Homo sapiens: one gene and its partner. The protein of the gene in region 1 purifies or fractionates together with the protein of each later gene. This does not show direct contact. Each region holds a gene or a part of one and is shown in the gene's direction. Other genes may lie near its edges.

What was found. Proteins that work in one complex are often made in the same cells at the same time.
Region 2: the proteins of SLC60A1 (region 1) and DMAC2L purify together in Homo sapiens (affinity purification with mass spectrometry; 2 studies listed by BioGRID and IntAct, with this or other methods). This does not show direct contact.

The regions. Positions count from the first base shown.
Region 1 is NC_000001.11:205,586,005-205,593,019, forward strand, and holds part of SLC60A1 (major facilitator superfamily domain-containing protein 4A), read left to right. Parts: intron 1-29; coding exon 30-203; intron 204-5,865; exon of another isoform or gene 5,866-6,135; coding exon 6,136-6,283; intron 6,284-7,015.
Region 2 is NC_000014.9:50,307,381-50,315,328, forward strand, and holds the start of DMAC2L (ATP synthase subunit s, mitochondrial isoform a precursor), read left to right. Parts: upstream 1-4,943; 5' UTR 4,944-5,009; exon of another isoform or gene 5,010-6,883; coding exon of another isoform or gene 6,884-7,010; intron 7,011-7,078; exon of another isoform or gene 7,079-7,210; 5' UTR 7,211-7,246; intron 7,247-7,948. Other genes in the region: L2HGDH (L-2-hydroxyglutarate dehydrogenase, mitochondrial), read right to left, coding at 4,631-4,770. UniProt on the Homo sapiens protein: Involved in regulation of mitochondrial membrane ATP synthase. Necessary for H(+) conduction of ATP synthase. Facilitates energy-driven catalysis of ATP synthesis by blocking a proton leak through an alternative proton exit pathway.

The DNA.
Region 1 (7,015 bases):
GTGCTCAACAGCGCCCGGTCTCTCCACAGGGTGCCTATTCCGCCTTCGTGTACAGCTATGCTGTGGAGAAGCCCCTGTCTGTGGGACACAAGGTGGCTGGCTACCTCCCCAGCCTCTTCTGGGGCTTCATCACACTGGGCCGGCTCCTCTCCATTCCCATATCCTCAAGAATGAAGCCGGCCACCATGGTTTTCATCAACGTGGTAAGCAGCTGAATAGCCTCCTCTCTCTTCTGAGAGACCCAGGAGAAGCCGCCTCCTCCTGGCCCTACCCCAGGACGTTTGCCCAGGCCTACATTCTGCCAGCAGGATGGGAACTCAGGAGTAGAGGGAAGAGAGGAGAGAGAGGATGACGAGGAAGGGGTGGGAGCCTGGGAGGTGGAGCCTACCTGGGTGACCATGAAAAGTCCCTTCCCCTCTCTGGGCTGCTGATCTTATACCCTTAAAACATAAAAGGAAAGGTCTGTAGGAGGTGCTGGCTGCAGTGTGTGGAGCCCATCCCAGCCAACAACTGGCTATGAGCGTGAGGAAAGCCAGTGCTGGCCCTGGTCCTCCTGTGTTTACCTTGGTGCCCAGCTGCTCAGAGCCCTCCAGTCAGTGGAAAGCTGTGGAGGCCAGGGATCCCACAACCGTCGGAATCACTGCCTCTGGGCTGGGGCCTGGGGATTTGCATTTGGTAGCTCTCCTAGGTGACTCTTTTTTTTTTTTTTTGAGATAGGGTCTCCCTTTGTCACCCAGGATGGAGCACAGTGGTGTGATCTCAGCTCACTGCAACCTCTGTCTCCCAGGTTCAAGTGATTCTCCTGCCTCAGCCTCCCAAGTAACTGGGATGACAGGTGCCTACCACCATGCCTGGCTAATTTTTGTATTTTTAATGGTGATGGGGTTTCACCACGTTGGCCAGGCTGGTCTTGAACTCCTGACCTCTTAATGATCCACCCGCCTCGGCCTCCCAAAGTGCTGGGATTACAGGAGTAAGCCACTCTGCCTAGCGCTAGGTGATTCTTAAGTAGGCAGGACATGGAGGATGACCTTCAAGGAACTGATCTGCCTAGGAGGCAGGAGGTCTGGGCCTGAGCAGTGGGTTAAGACCCTTGCCTTGGTGTGTCCATCCAGGTCACCATCCATGACACAGGGGTCCACATTACAGACTTCTGCCAAATTGTCTAGTCCAACCTCCCATCAGGCTTGAGCCACCTCTATCTATAACATCCCTTCCAAGGGGTTCACTGTCTGCTTAAACACCTCTAGTAACTGCAACTCACTACCTTTCCAAGTAGCCCAATGAGGGTACTAAGTCCAGGTAAGAAAGCATTTCCTTGGTTGAATTTCTAGCAGAGAGCGGGTTTGGACATAAGGTTGCAGTTTCAGAGACAAAGATCATGATCCCCAAGAAAGGCCTTTGGATTTGACCTCGTGCCAGTTGACCCCCAAGAAAGAAATTTCAGTTCAATGTAGATGGGAGGTAGGTGATAAACCCAAACGCAAGAGGTTGAGGGTGAGAGGGAGATGAGCAGTGGAGGAATTTGCATTTCTCTTTGTAAATATTTTTGAGTTGAAGGGAGTTGTGTTCTGCAGGACTCAGGGTGGTATGGGCCTGCTTATAGTAGAGGATAAAGGGAGGACACCTATTAGGAGGAGGAGTCTGTGAAAATACCATTGTGAGAGAGTAACCGAGTGAGGAAGGCCCTGACAGAGGGGAGGTGGGATGGAGAGCGGGAGTGGAGGAGGCTCTAAGCTCAGCAAGGAGGAAGGCCCCTGTCCATGGAGTTGGGGCGAAACGATGTCAAAGGGGAAAGGTTCCAGAAGAGGAAGGGCACAGACATGGGGCCAGCCCTGGCTTCCCTGTCTAGGTCAGACACAAGGCCAATTGCTAAGACAGAGGAGAGTGGGTGGAAATCTGGGTTTGGGAAAATAAAGGTCTGAAGCATCCACATATGTTAGGCATTGCCCATAGACACTCACCTGGAGTGCTGGGTTTTAAAAAGGAAAATCAGGTTCCTGGGCCCAACCCAGACTGAGTGAATCCGAATGTCCAGGAGGAGGCATAGCAATCTATAAATTAAACAAATACCCCAGGGGAATTACATCATCCAGCAAGCTCAGGAAAACACTGTCCTAGAACAAGTGACTCCCAAATACATTAGATTCACTGGAGCTGCTTTTTGAAAATAGGATCATGAAAAGGCCAGGCGCGGTGGCTCACACCTGTAATCCCAGAACTTTGGGAGGCCGAGGCGGGTGGATCATGAGGTCAGGAGTTCGAGACCAGCCTGACCAACATGGTGATACCCCATCTCTACTAAAAATACAAAAATTAGCCGGGCGTGGTGGCGCCTGCCTGTAATCCCAACTACTCAGGAGGCTGAGGCAGGAGAATCACTTGAACCTAGCAGGCAGAGGTTGCAGTGAGCTGAAATGGTGCCACTGCCCTCCAGCCTGAGAGACAGAGCAAGACTTCAAATCAAAAAAAAAAAAAAAAAAAAAGAAAGAGAAAATAGGATCATGGACCCCTACCCCAGAGATTCTAATTTAGGAGGTATGGAGAAGAGCCTGGGCCTCTGGGTTGTTTTGGAAGCTTTCCAGCTGCTTTTGTGGGCACCCTGTTTGGGAACTGCAGCTGAGTGGCCCTGAGCAAGCCTCTCCTGTGTAGATGTGAAGTGCCTGTGTCATATTCACTGTGACTACTTCCGAGTATTCCTCTCTAGGTTAAATTAATGGCCACCCTGTTCTCAGCATTCTCCTGGAGCTCAACAGCTACTTCCTGACTTAGTATGTTTGTGCTATGTGCAAAGCCCTGCTGCAAACTGCAGGCCGCCAAGTTCTGGAAGACAAGGTTCTTGCTTCCAGGGAGCTTACGGCCGGCCAGAGGAGGGCAGTGTGCCCCAGCACAGATGGAGGGTGAGGGTGTAGGCAGTGGGGATGCAGGCTCAGTACCAGACTGAGTCACTGGCTGAGGCAGGGGCCACACTGCGTGGGAAGAGAGTTGGTGGAGCTGATAGTTCGTCCTGGTTAGTCTTCTATCACCAAGGCTAAAATAAGACTCGGGTGTCTTTCAAACTTCCCCAAATTTAGGGATTTTCAGGGTGACGGTCTTTGAGGCATGGCTGGAAATGCATGTGGTTTGTACATGGGGTAGCCAGGTGGAAGAAGAGGAGCAGGAGTGGCGGCTTCCAAACCCCGGCATCTGTCCCAGGCTCCTAAGTTGAACACTGAATATTAAGAAGGTGCCAGCCCCTGAAGGCAGGAGGTGAGCAGGCCTGGCTGAAGTTCAAAGGCCCGTGTTCAAAGGCCTGGGTTAGGGGCTAGGAGGCTAACTTGGGGGGAGCACGGTAGGCAGGGTGGGGGATCGGGAGCAGAAAAAGATGAGGATGGGGAAGTAAACAGGGGCTACATCCTCAGGGTTTTGTAAGGTGGGCTTTGAATTTTATTCTAAGTGGGCAGGAAGCCAATAGGTTTTAAGCAGGTCTGCGTTGCATTTTCTTTTTTCTTTTTATTTTTTTGCATCTCACAGATACATTTATTCATGCTATGAAGTAAACGACACTTATACAGGTGCCCCGTGATGTTTCACATTTCCATCTAACATAGCTTGCATTGCATTTTTAAAATTTATTATTGTTTTTTTTAGAGAGACAGGGTCTCACTATGTTGCCCAGGCTGGTCTTGAACTCCTGGGCCCAAGCGATCCTTCCTGCCTCAGCCTACCAAAGTGGTAGAACTAGACAGGAGCCACCATCTCCAGCCACTTGCACTGCATTTTAAAAGTGCACTCCAGTGTGGAAGAACAGACTGTAGCTGGCAAGAGTCAAACACAGACTGTCTGTTATTGTAGTCCAGGCGCAAGAGGGAGGTGGCTGGGATGGGGTGGTCTGGATGGATCTGGAGCAGTACAAGGATCGAACATGTTTTTTGAGATGGTGTGGACAGGACTTGTTGCTGACCCAGGTGTGGGAGGTAAGGAAAGGAGGAATCAAGGACCTTAGACACAGGACTTGAGCAACTGCATGACTGGGATGCCCTCACTTGATGTGTGCAGGAGTAGGATTGGCAGAGGAAATTAAGAGTCTAGTTTGGGCCACATGGTTAGTCATCCAGGGACTGACTATATCCAAGGGGCAGCTTTAGGTGCAAGTCCGGAGTCCTGGACACAGCTCATGGCTAGAGGGATAGATACAAGCATGCCTGCTGTAGAGGCAGGTGAAACGTGGAGCAGGGCACTGCGGACATGGAAGAGCCAGAAGAGAATCCTGGGCCACCCCAACATTGAGAGAGTGAACAGAGGGGAAAGCAAGAACAAATGGATCTCAGGGACCATGTTCTGTGCCAAAGAAAGACATGACCTTTGGAACCATAGTTATGCTATGACTTTCATATTTTTACTGCATGAAAGAAGTCTTTTGTCTTTCCATTTCCATTCTGAAGGGAATGTGTTTCTCTCCTTCGGCCACTGTTTTGTGGCTGATCCCTCCCCAGGGAAGGAAGTCTGTCTGGGTAAGGCCTCTGAGCCTCGAGACCACCTTCCACCTAACAGATCCTGTGGCAGAGACGGAAGGGCTGCTAGAGGAGCGTAAAGGCCTCAAGGATTAGGAGCACCGGCTTTGATTTTCCAATTGGAGCAACTCTCCCAGGATCGGCTCCCAACCCTGAAAGTCTTTCCTTTCTGCATGCCCAGAAGTGGAGGGGTTGGGAGCTGGATGAGATTTCTTGCCTAGCTCTATAGTCTGTACTTACTTTTTAAAGAAACAGATGTCTTCATCCAGGAGATTTTTACCTCAAAGCCATAGGCTGCTATAGAAGATCCTTATCTCCTGAGACGTCTAAGAAAAGCCCACAGAGAAACACTAGGACTCATATTTGTCTGAAGCACCACAGTTTACAGAGCCCCTTCATCTGTATTATTTCACCACCACTCTTTAGTGTGGCTTTTGTAACTATTCCTATTTTGCAGATTAGGAAGTTAAGAATCAGAGCAATCAGCTACTTCTGGGTTCCACAGCTGGTAAAAAACACATCGGGACTTCCACCTGGGTCTTCTGACCCCAAATCTTGTGCTGCCTGGGTTTATTCCCAGATACATCTTGCACAGAAGTGACTCAATGCAGACATAAAAACGTGTTTAAAGAACTTAGAAATATGGTTATATTAACAAAAACATGCCTGTATGACAGAGACCTTTACTGAACTAGAAAGATTTGGCTGGGCGTGGGGGCTCATGCCTGTAATCCCAACAGTTTGGGAAGCTGAGGCAGATGGATTGCTTGAGCCCAGAAGTTCAAGACCAGCCTGGGCAACATGGCGAACCCTTTCTCGACTAAAAATACAGAAAATTAGCAGGCGTGGTGGCACATGCCTGAGGTCCCAGCTACTCAGGAGGCTGAGGTGGGAGGAACGCTTGAGCCCTGTAGGTCGAGGCTGCAGTGAGCTGAGATTGCACCACTGCACTCCAATTTGGGCAACAGAGTGAGACCCTGTCTCTCAAAAAAAAAAAAAAAAAAAGGAAAGAAAAGAAAGATTTCTGGGTCTCCAACCATAGGTTAGCATCTGCCCATGGGAATCTGAGCCAAATCTGAGGGTGCCAAGCTGACTGCCACAGCCACTGACCCTCTCCCTGGGTGGCTGGCTAGGATTCCCAGAGGATGGGACCCTGCTGCCACCACCCCTCTTCCCCTGCTATCTGATGGCTTCCTGTCTGTGCACTCTTGGCTTTCAGGAGAAGAGAAGCAGCTTCTCACAAAGAAACAGAGACTCTCCTACCCCCAGGGCTGGCAGGGCAGAGAGAGCTGATGAAATTGGCTTGGGTGGAGTTCCCGCGGTTACAGATAAGACCTTGGGGACAGGTAGTCCTCAGTCCCCAAATGCTTACGCAGCGTGTACCGTAGCTGTTAGGGGAGATGTCTAGGTGGGAAGATGTCTAGGCGGGGGTCTCCTTTCCACGCTTCCTTCCAGATGTCAGAACGGTCCCCGGAACACTGCGGTTCCCGCCTGGTCCACGGGGTGGCGCGCGGGTCACACAGCTGGGCTCCTTGGGCTAGAGAGGAAACGCCAAGCCAGGAGACGCCGACTCCTGGCGGTTCCTCACCACCGATGCTCAGCTTTTCGCAATTCCTAACCGCCTCCACCTCTGCCGCGACAGGTTGGCGTGGTGGTGACGTTCCTGGTGCTGCTTATTTTCTCCTACAACGTCGTCTTCCTGTTCGTGGGGACGGCAAGCCTGGGCCTGTTTCTCAGCAGCACCTTCCCCAGCATGCTGGCCTACACGGAGGACTCGCTGCAGTACAAAGGTGAGGGCCGGGCCCGAGCCAGGAGGCGCGCTCTATCTAGCTGGGCGCCGCCGCCTCGCTCTGCCCTGTCTCTCTGTGCTCTTTTTTTTTTTTTTTAATTTTATTATTATTATACTTCACGTTTTAGGGTACATGTGCACAACGTGCAGGTTTGTTACATATGTATACATGTGCCATGTTGGTGTGCTGCACCCATTAACTCGTCATTTAGCATTAGGTATATCTCCTAATGCTATCCCTCCCCCCTCTCCCCACCCCACAACTGTCCCAGGTGTGTGATGTTCCCCTGTGCTCTTCTAGGCCAGCACCATCTCCCAGCGAGAACGCTGCCCTAGCTCCCTGGAGAAATGAACACCCCCCTCCTGACTTTGGCGGGAGCAGGCCCACAGCCGGGGTGGTTCTGACCCGCTGGGCTCCCTCCATTCAGAATGATCCCCGTAATGATGGGATTTTAGGCCGCAGAGAAGCAGTTAAGCTTCTTTTTTCCATCCGCTTTGTCCCCATCGTAACGTCTGCTGACCTGCAGCTGACATTTTGTGCGATATGGATGTGCTGGAAATGCCAAGTTCAAAGAAAAGCAAAGATGCACAGGAGAAGTTATGGCATAGGAAAGGCATTTTGTAAGCTAATTTTCAGTAACAGTACGTGCCTGCCTTGTGGCTGTGGTGGATGTTAGAAACGTGGAGGATTAGAACACAGATCTGGTTTCAGGAGTCACACAGCCTCTTTGAT
Region 2 (7,948 bases), on another chromosome or scaffold:
TTCACAAACAAAAGCACAAATCTCCAAGCATCCACTATGGAGACAGGTGAACAGAACAATAGTCATAGATGAATGCTGGAGGACAGTTGCAGGCCAAGCTAACCACGGAGGCTGAAAGAGACATCTTTCTCTACAACTCACTTAATCTCAAGTTAACACCAATGAATGGTTTAACAGATAATTTTCTTAAGCTTTTTATGGAAAAGTTCATACCTACACAAAGTTAGACAAAATAGTTCAATGAAGCCCCACATATACATCACCCAGCTTCACTAATTATCAACTCACAGCAAATCTTGCTTCTTCTATACTCTATTTCATCCCCTCCTGTATTATATTATTTTGATGCAAATCTTAAACACCACATTATTTCATCTGTAAATATTTCAATGTTATTTCTAAAAGGCATCTCTAAAAACACACACTACCATTATAGTTAAAAAAACTAACACAAAATTTTTTACATCACCTAATATTCACTTTAAAACTTTTAGGAAAAAATAGGACAAAATCTTGGGACTTAGAGTTGACATCAAAAACATGATCCATAAAAGAAAAAAAACTGATAAAATGGACTTCATCAAAACATAAAACTTTTGCTCTGCAAAAAGACTCTGTTAAGAGGATAAAAAAACTAAGAAATTGGAAAAAAATACTAGTAACTGCATATCTCCCAAAGGACTCATACATAAAAGAACTCTCAAAACAAGCCATTTAGAACGTAGGCAGGCCGGGTGCGATGGCTCACGCCTTTAATCCCAGCACTTTGGGAGGCCAAGGCGGGCGGATCACCTGACGTCAGGAGTTTGAGACCAGCCATGCCAACATGGAGAAACCCCATCTCTACTAAAAAGACAAAATTGGCTGGGCATGGTGGCGCATGCCTGTAATCCCAGCTACTCGGGAGGCTGAGGCAGGAGAATTGCTTGAACCCAGGAGGCCTCTGCGGTGAGCCGAGACCGCGCCACTGCGCTCCAGCCTGGGCAACAAGGCGAAACTCCATCTCAGAAAAAAAAAAAAAAAAAAAGTGGGCAAAAGATATGAACAAATATTTCATCAAAGAGGACAGATACACAGATGGCAAAGAAGCACATGAAAAGATGTTCAACACCATTAGTCAATGCATTGTTCAAACATCATTGCATCAGAGAAATGTAAATAAAAACCACAATGAGATATCACTACGTCTCTATCAGAATGGCTAAAATTTAAAAAGTGATCACCCCAAATGCTGGTGAGAATGAAGGGAAACTGGATTACTCACACATAGCTGGTGGGAATGTAAAATAGTACAGCCACTCTGGAAAAGAGTATGGCAGTTTCTTAAAAAGAAACTAAACATGGACTTACTACATGACTCAGTAACTGCAGTCTTGGGCATTTATTCCAGAGAAATGAAACTTATGTTCATACAAAAACCTGAACATGAATGTTCATAGTAGCTTTATTCGTAATAGCCAAAAACTGGAAGCAGCTTGGATGTTCTTCAACCCATGGTAAACGGTTAAACAAATTGTGATGTATCCATACCATGGAATTCTATTCAACAATTTTGAAAAACCTGCTATCAATACAGGCGACGCCTTGCATGGATCTTAAGGATAGTATGCTGTGTGAAAAAAAGCCAATCTCCAAAGGCTTGTTTTGAGAGTTCTTTATGTATTTTGTGTATTAGTCCTTTGGGAGATATGCAGTTGCTGGTATTTTTTTCCCACGTCTTGGTAGTTTTTTCATTCTCTTAACAGTCTTTTGCAGAGCAAAAGTTTTTCATTTTGATGAAGTCCATTTTGTCAATTTTTTTCTTTTAGAGATCATGCTTTTGATGTCATCTCTATGTCCAAAGATCTTGTCCTTTTTCTAAAAGTTTTATACTGAATATTTGGTGATATAAAAAATTTCAGGCCGGGTGCAGTGGCTCATGCCTGTAATCCCAATACTTTGGGAGGCTGAGGCGGGTGGATCACCTGAGGTCAGGAGTTTGAGACCAGCCTGGCCAACACGGTGAAACCCTATCTCTACTCAAAATACAAAATCAGCTGGGCGTGGTGGCACATGCCTGTAATCCCAGCTACTCAGGAGGCTGAGGCAGGAGAATCCCTTCAACCTAGGAGACAGAGGTTGCAGTGAGCCAAGATCATGCCACTGTACTCCAGCCTGGGTGACAAAGCGAGACTTCGTGTTAAAAAAAAAAAAAAATTTAGATTCACAGTTGCCAAGAGTTAGGAAGAATGGAGAGGAAGGTGTGAATATAAAGAGATAGGTAACACAACAGATAACCTTGTGGCAATAGAATATTTTTATACCACCCTTTTTTTTTTTTTTAAGAGAGTCTTGCTCTGTTGTCCAGGCTTCAGCGCGGCGGTGTAATCACAGGTCACCACACCTTCAACCTCCTGGGCTCAAGCGATCCTCCTGCCTCAGCCCCACAAGTGGCTGGGACTACAGGAGCAAGCCACCACACCTGGCTAATTATTTTTTAATTTTTTTGTAGAGCAGGGGTTTTGCCGTCTCCCTTTGTTGCCCAGGCTGGTCTCCAACTCTGAGGCTCAACCTATCCTCCCACCTCGGCCTCCCAAAGTGCTGAGATTATAGGCATGAGCCAGCATGCCTGGCCACATTTTCATATCTTAATTGAGGTGGTAGTTACACAAATTAATACATATGATTAAACTGCATAGAACTAAACACACACACACACACGAATATATGTAAAACTGATGAAAGCTGAACAATGTCCGTGGATTTTGCCAATATCAATTTCCTAGTTTTGATATTGTACTATAGTTATATAAGATGTTTTCATTGGGGTAAATGGGGTGAAGGGTACATGGGATCTCTTTGTACTGTTTATTTATTTTTATTTTTTATTTTGTAGAGAAGGGATCTTATATTTTGCCCAGGCTGGTCTCAAACTTCTGGGCTCAAGTGATCCTCCTGCCTCAGCCTCCCAAAGCACTGGGATTACAGGCCTGAGTCACCACGCTTGGCCTGTACTATTTTTGCAATTTCCAATGGATCTATAATTACTTCAAAATAAAAGTATAGGCCAGGCACGGTGGCTCACACCTGTAATCTCAGCACTTTGGGTGGCTGAAGAGGGAGGTTCACTTGAGGCCAGGGGTTCGAGACCACCCTGGGCAACGTCTCTACAAAAAAATAGGAAAATAATTAGCTGCCTGTGGTCCCAGCTCCTGGAGGACAGGAAGCATTGGGGAGGGGGGCTGAGGAGGGAGGATCGCTTGAGCCCAGGAGGGTGGAGGCTGCAGTGAGCTATGATTGTGCCACTGCACTCCAGCCTTGGCAACACAGTGAGACCCTGACTCCAAAAATTTTTTAAAAAAACATTTTAAGTATAAACAAAACTTTCACTAGCCCTACTTTTCTTTCCTTAAGAAAAGCTTCCCAAAAGAACTGTCCACATGCCCCATAACAAATCACAATCGCTATTACTGGTATCCCACTCTACTCCCCCTATCCACCAACACGCAGCAGCCAGAGTCAACTTTTAGAACATCAACATTTAATTATTAGCCTCTTCTTTTTTTCTTTTCTTTTCTTTTTTTTTTTTTTTTTTTTTTTGCGAGACAGAGTCTTGCTCTGTCGCCCAGGCTGGAGTGCAATGGTGCGATCTCAGCTTACTGCAATCTCCGCCTCCCAGGTTCAAGCGATTCTCCTAAGGCTCCGGAGTAGTTGGGATTACAGGCGCCCACCACCACGCCAGGCTAATTTTTTTGTATTTTTAGTAGAGACGGGGTTTCACCATGTTGGTTAGGCTGGTCTCCAACTTCTGACCTCAGGCGATCCGCCCGCCTCGGCCTCCTAAAGCGTAGCCTCTTCTTAAAACCCTTTTAAATAGCTTCCCGTGGCTCTTAGAATAAAAGTCAACGTGTGGTTAAAATAAACTAAAAACCTTGCTGTGATGTAGTCCTTCTGGGTCATTCCACACCATATGTCTTCCACTAAACTTCAGTCACACTCATATGGCCCACCTTCTAGTCGTCAAAATAGCCAAAACCTCTCCAAGCCTTACAGCCTTCACACAAACTGTTTCTTCTACAGAGGACAGAGAAAGACAATGGTTTCGAATGTGACGTCCAAACTATAAATCACAGGACACTGAATTCTGCGGGCTTTCATTAGCATAAGAGCTGCCTCCGACGGGGGCAACACTATGCGGGGTGTGCCAGGAACTGATTTAAGACTGTATTCAGATCTTCCAAGCAACGCCAAAGACTCCAGCTTATAAAGAGCATATTTGATTGCTTATACTGTGTGCTAGGTCCTTTTATCCTTCAAATGACCACCTACAGGAGAGACTAAGGTCCAATTCACAACTGAGCCTTTAAGGAGGTTAAGTAACTAGCCCAGAGTTCAACAGAAAGTGGACGGGTTGTTCAAAGCCAGAGCTACTCCCGACCTCTACTCTATACACTGCCTTTCCTCCGGCCCGTAAATACAACGAATGAACCTGCAGGTTGGTAGCTCCTGGGATCCGAGGTTGGAGTGCCACAGGACCCCAACCTGCTCTCACCCCGGGACAGGGAAATACGAACAGGGGCACAGGTCCACCACCAGGTGCCTCCGCGAGGGGCAGCAGCGCAGGCGGCGGGGAGGACCAGCGGCCACTCACCTGGTGCTGGCGCTGCGGCTACCTCCACACAGCGGTCTTGGCCTCCCAGACGCGAACCCGCACGCCCCAGGGGAGCCACCGGCGAAAAGCCCGCGGGCCCGTCCGCAGGCACCAACCAAATAACGCAGCGCTGGCACCATCCCCTACGCACGCTCCCCTCCCTCAGCGCTCAGAAGAAGCCACTTGACCCTCCACGGCCGAGGACCCGCGCTCTTTAGCCCCGCCCCTCACGCGGGGGCCAATGAAGTGGCGCGCCTTCGCCCCATGTGGGAGAGGCTGCGGTGGCCAATAGGCGCGCGCGTCGGAGGGCGAAGGGCCGGCCAGGGTGCCGCAGACGCGGGGACGCTGGCTCGCTCCCTCCCTCCCTCCCTCCGACGCTGTGAGTAGAGAAGCTAGGCCCCGAGCCGGGCGGGACTAGGGTGGTGGTTGTGTTCTGCCCTCGCCCGTCGCCAACGCTGGGCTGACTGAAAACCTGGCCCTTTGGGTCGCGCGTCTTCGACCTTCACCGCCATGCGGACATGGGGCCGTGGGAGAAACTCTGGGCGGGATTACGGTGAAAATTCTTGTTTGGGCGGGCCCTGCGGCTTCTTTCTTCCGGCTCGCCCTCGGCCCCGCCCCCGCCCCGCCCCCGCTCCAGCTCCAGCCGGGTCCTCGCTCGGCCCCGCACGCGGCCCGCGGTAGACGGAGGGCCTGGGCACCCACCGTCTCCATCCCGGCCCCAGCCCAGTCGAGCGTCCACTAGAAGGGCGCTCCCTGTCCGGCCCTAATCCTCGCTCCTCACGGAGGCTCTTTGTCACAGCGAAGACTGACAGCCCGCAGTCTTCTGGACTTCTTTTATGGGGCTCCTGGCGGTGCTATTCATTCAGTCATTGATTCGTCTTGTAAATATGGAGCGCCTGCTCTGTACTCGACCCGGCACTGGGTACCGGAAGAACCAGACAGCTCGGTTTTTGCCACCATTTATAAGTCTGTGTCCTTTTCTTGAGTACTGAACCGAGATACAGTTTTAAATGTGCTGTGCGGTCTCTGAGCAGCGACTCACCTGTGCAGGTCACTTCACCTGATTCCCTTTATGTAAAAATGAGGGCGATGGGCTGTGTAATCTCTAAAGGACCTTCTAACTCTTTAAAATTGTCACTGTGCCGGTGTTGCTAACACTCATTCTGTATGCTTGATGGCAGTTTTTAATTTTTAGGGTTAGGACAGCTGAACATAACAAATAGAATTATACAGATTTATTACCAGAAGGACTTCGTGTGCCTCTAAGAATCTTGGTTCCAGTCTTTGGTCAGGTAGCTCCAGGAAATCACTTCACCTCTTTGCCTCAGACCCTCCTCAGTGAACTAGGAATGATAGCAGTGTCTCCCTAGTCTTAGGGCCGTTGAGCGGATTACACGAGATAAGGTCAGCAGGTGTTTAGCACAGTGAAGCATTTGCTACGTGATGACATTTATTATGGTTAAAGGGTTTTACCACCAGAACAGTGGTACATAGTTTGCTTTATTTGTTAAAACAATGTAGAATATTGCCTGCTTGTTCCATCACAGATGAAAAAAAGAGATGGTTATTCAACTTTGTGAGGTAATTGTGGATTTCCATGCAATTGTAAGAATAGAGATTCTGTGTACCCTTTACCCAGTCTTCCCAGTGGTAGCATCTTGCAAAACTAGTACCATATCACAACCAGGTAATTGACATTCACACAATCCATTGATCTCATTCAGATTCCTCATTTTGTATTAGTGTTCTCTGTGTATATTTAGTTCTATATGGTTATCAGGTGTGTAGATTCTTGTATCCACCACCACAGTCAAGGTACAGCCCAGGTCCATCACCACAAGGGTCCCTCCAGTTGCCCTTTTATAACCACAACTTACCTTTGCAGCCCCACCCAATCTATTCTCTGTTTCTAAAATTTTGTTATATCAAGAATGTTACATAAATGTAATTATTGTAATTATACAGTATGTAACTTTTATTGACTCTTTTTCATTCAGCATAATCCCTTGAGATATATCCAAACTGTTACATGTATCAGTAGTTCCTTCCTTTTTATTACTGAGTGGTATTCCATAATGTAGATGTACTACAGTATTGATATGGTTTGGCTGTGTCCCCACCCAAATCTCATCTTGAATTGTAACTCACCATTCCCATGTGTTGTGGGAGGAACCAGGTGGGAGGTGATTGAATTATGGAGGCAGGTCCTTCCTGTGCTGTTCTCCAGATAGTGAATGAGCCTCACAAGATGTGATGGTTTTAAAAACGGGAGGTTTCCCTGCACAAGTTCTTTCTTTGCATGCTGCCATCCATGTAAGATGTGACTTGCTCCTCCTTGCCTTCCACCATGATTGTGAGGCCTCCCCAGCCATGTGGAACTGTAAGTCCATTAAACCTCTTTTTCTTCTCGGTCTCGGGTATGTCTTTATCAGCAGTGTGAAAATGGACTAATACAAGTACATTCAACTGTTCACTCATTGAAGGACATTTGAGTTGTTTCTAGTTTTTAGCTATTGTGAATCAAGCAGCTGTGAACATGAGTGTACAGCCTTTTGTGTGAACCTGTTTTTGTTTCTCTAGGATAAGTGCCCAAGAGTACAATTGCTGGGTCATATGGTAAGTGCATGTTTATTTTTTATTTTTATTTTTGAGACAGGGTTATGCTCTGTTGCCCAGGCTGGAGTGCAGTGGTGCAATCTCAACTCACTGCGGCCTCTGCCTCCTGGTCTCAAGCAATTCTCCTGCCTCAGCCTCCTGAGTAGCTGGGACTATAGGCACATGCCACCACGCCCGGCAAACTCTCATATTTTTAGTAGAGATGCGGTTTCGCCATGTTGACCGGGCTGGTCTTGAACTCCTGACCTCAAGTGATCTGCCTGCCTCAGCCTCCCAAAGTGCTGGGATTACAGGTGTGAGCCACTGCACCCAGCCTATTGTATCATTCTTTTTTATTTATTTGCTTATTTATTTTTTTGAGACAGAGTCTCGCTCTGTCACCCAGGCTGGAGTGCAGTGGCATGATCTCAGCTCACTGCAAGCTCTGCCTCCCGGGTTCACACCATTCTCCTGCTTCAGCCTCCTGAGTAGCTGGGACTATAGGCACCTGCCACTATGCCCGGCTAATTTTTTATATTTTTAGTAGAGACAGGGTTTCACCGTGTTAGCCAGGATGGTCTCAATCTCCTGGCCTCGTGATCCACCCGCCTCGGCCTCCCAAAGTGTTGGGATTACAGGCATGAGCCACTGCGCCCAGCCTATTATGTCATTCTTATGCCTTTGCATCCTCATAGCTTAGCTCCCACTTTTGAGTAAGAACAT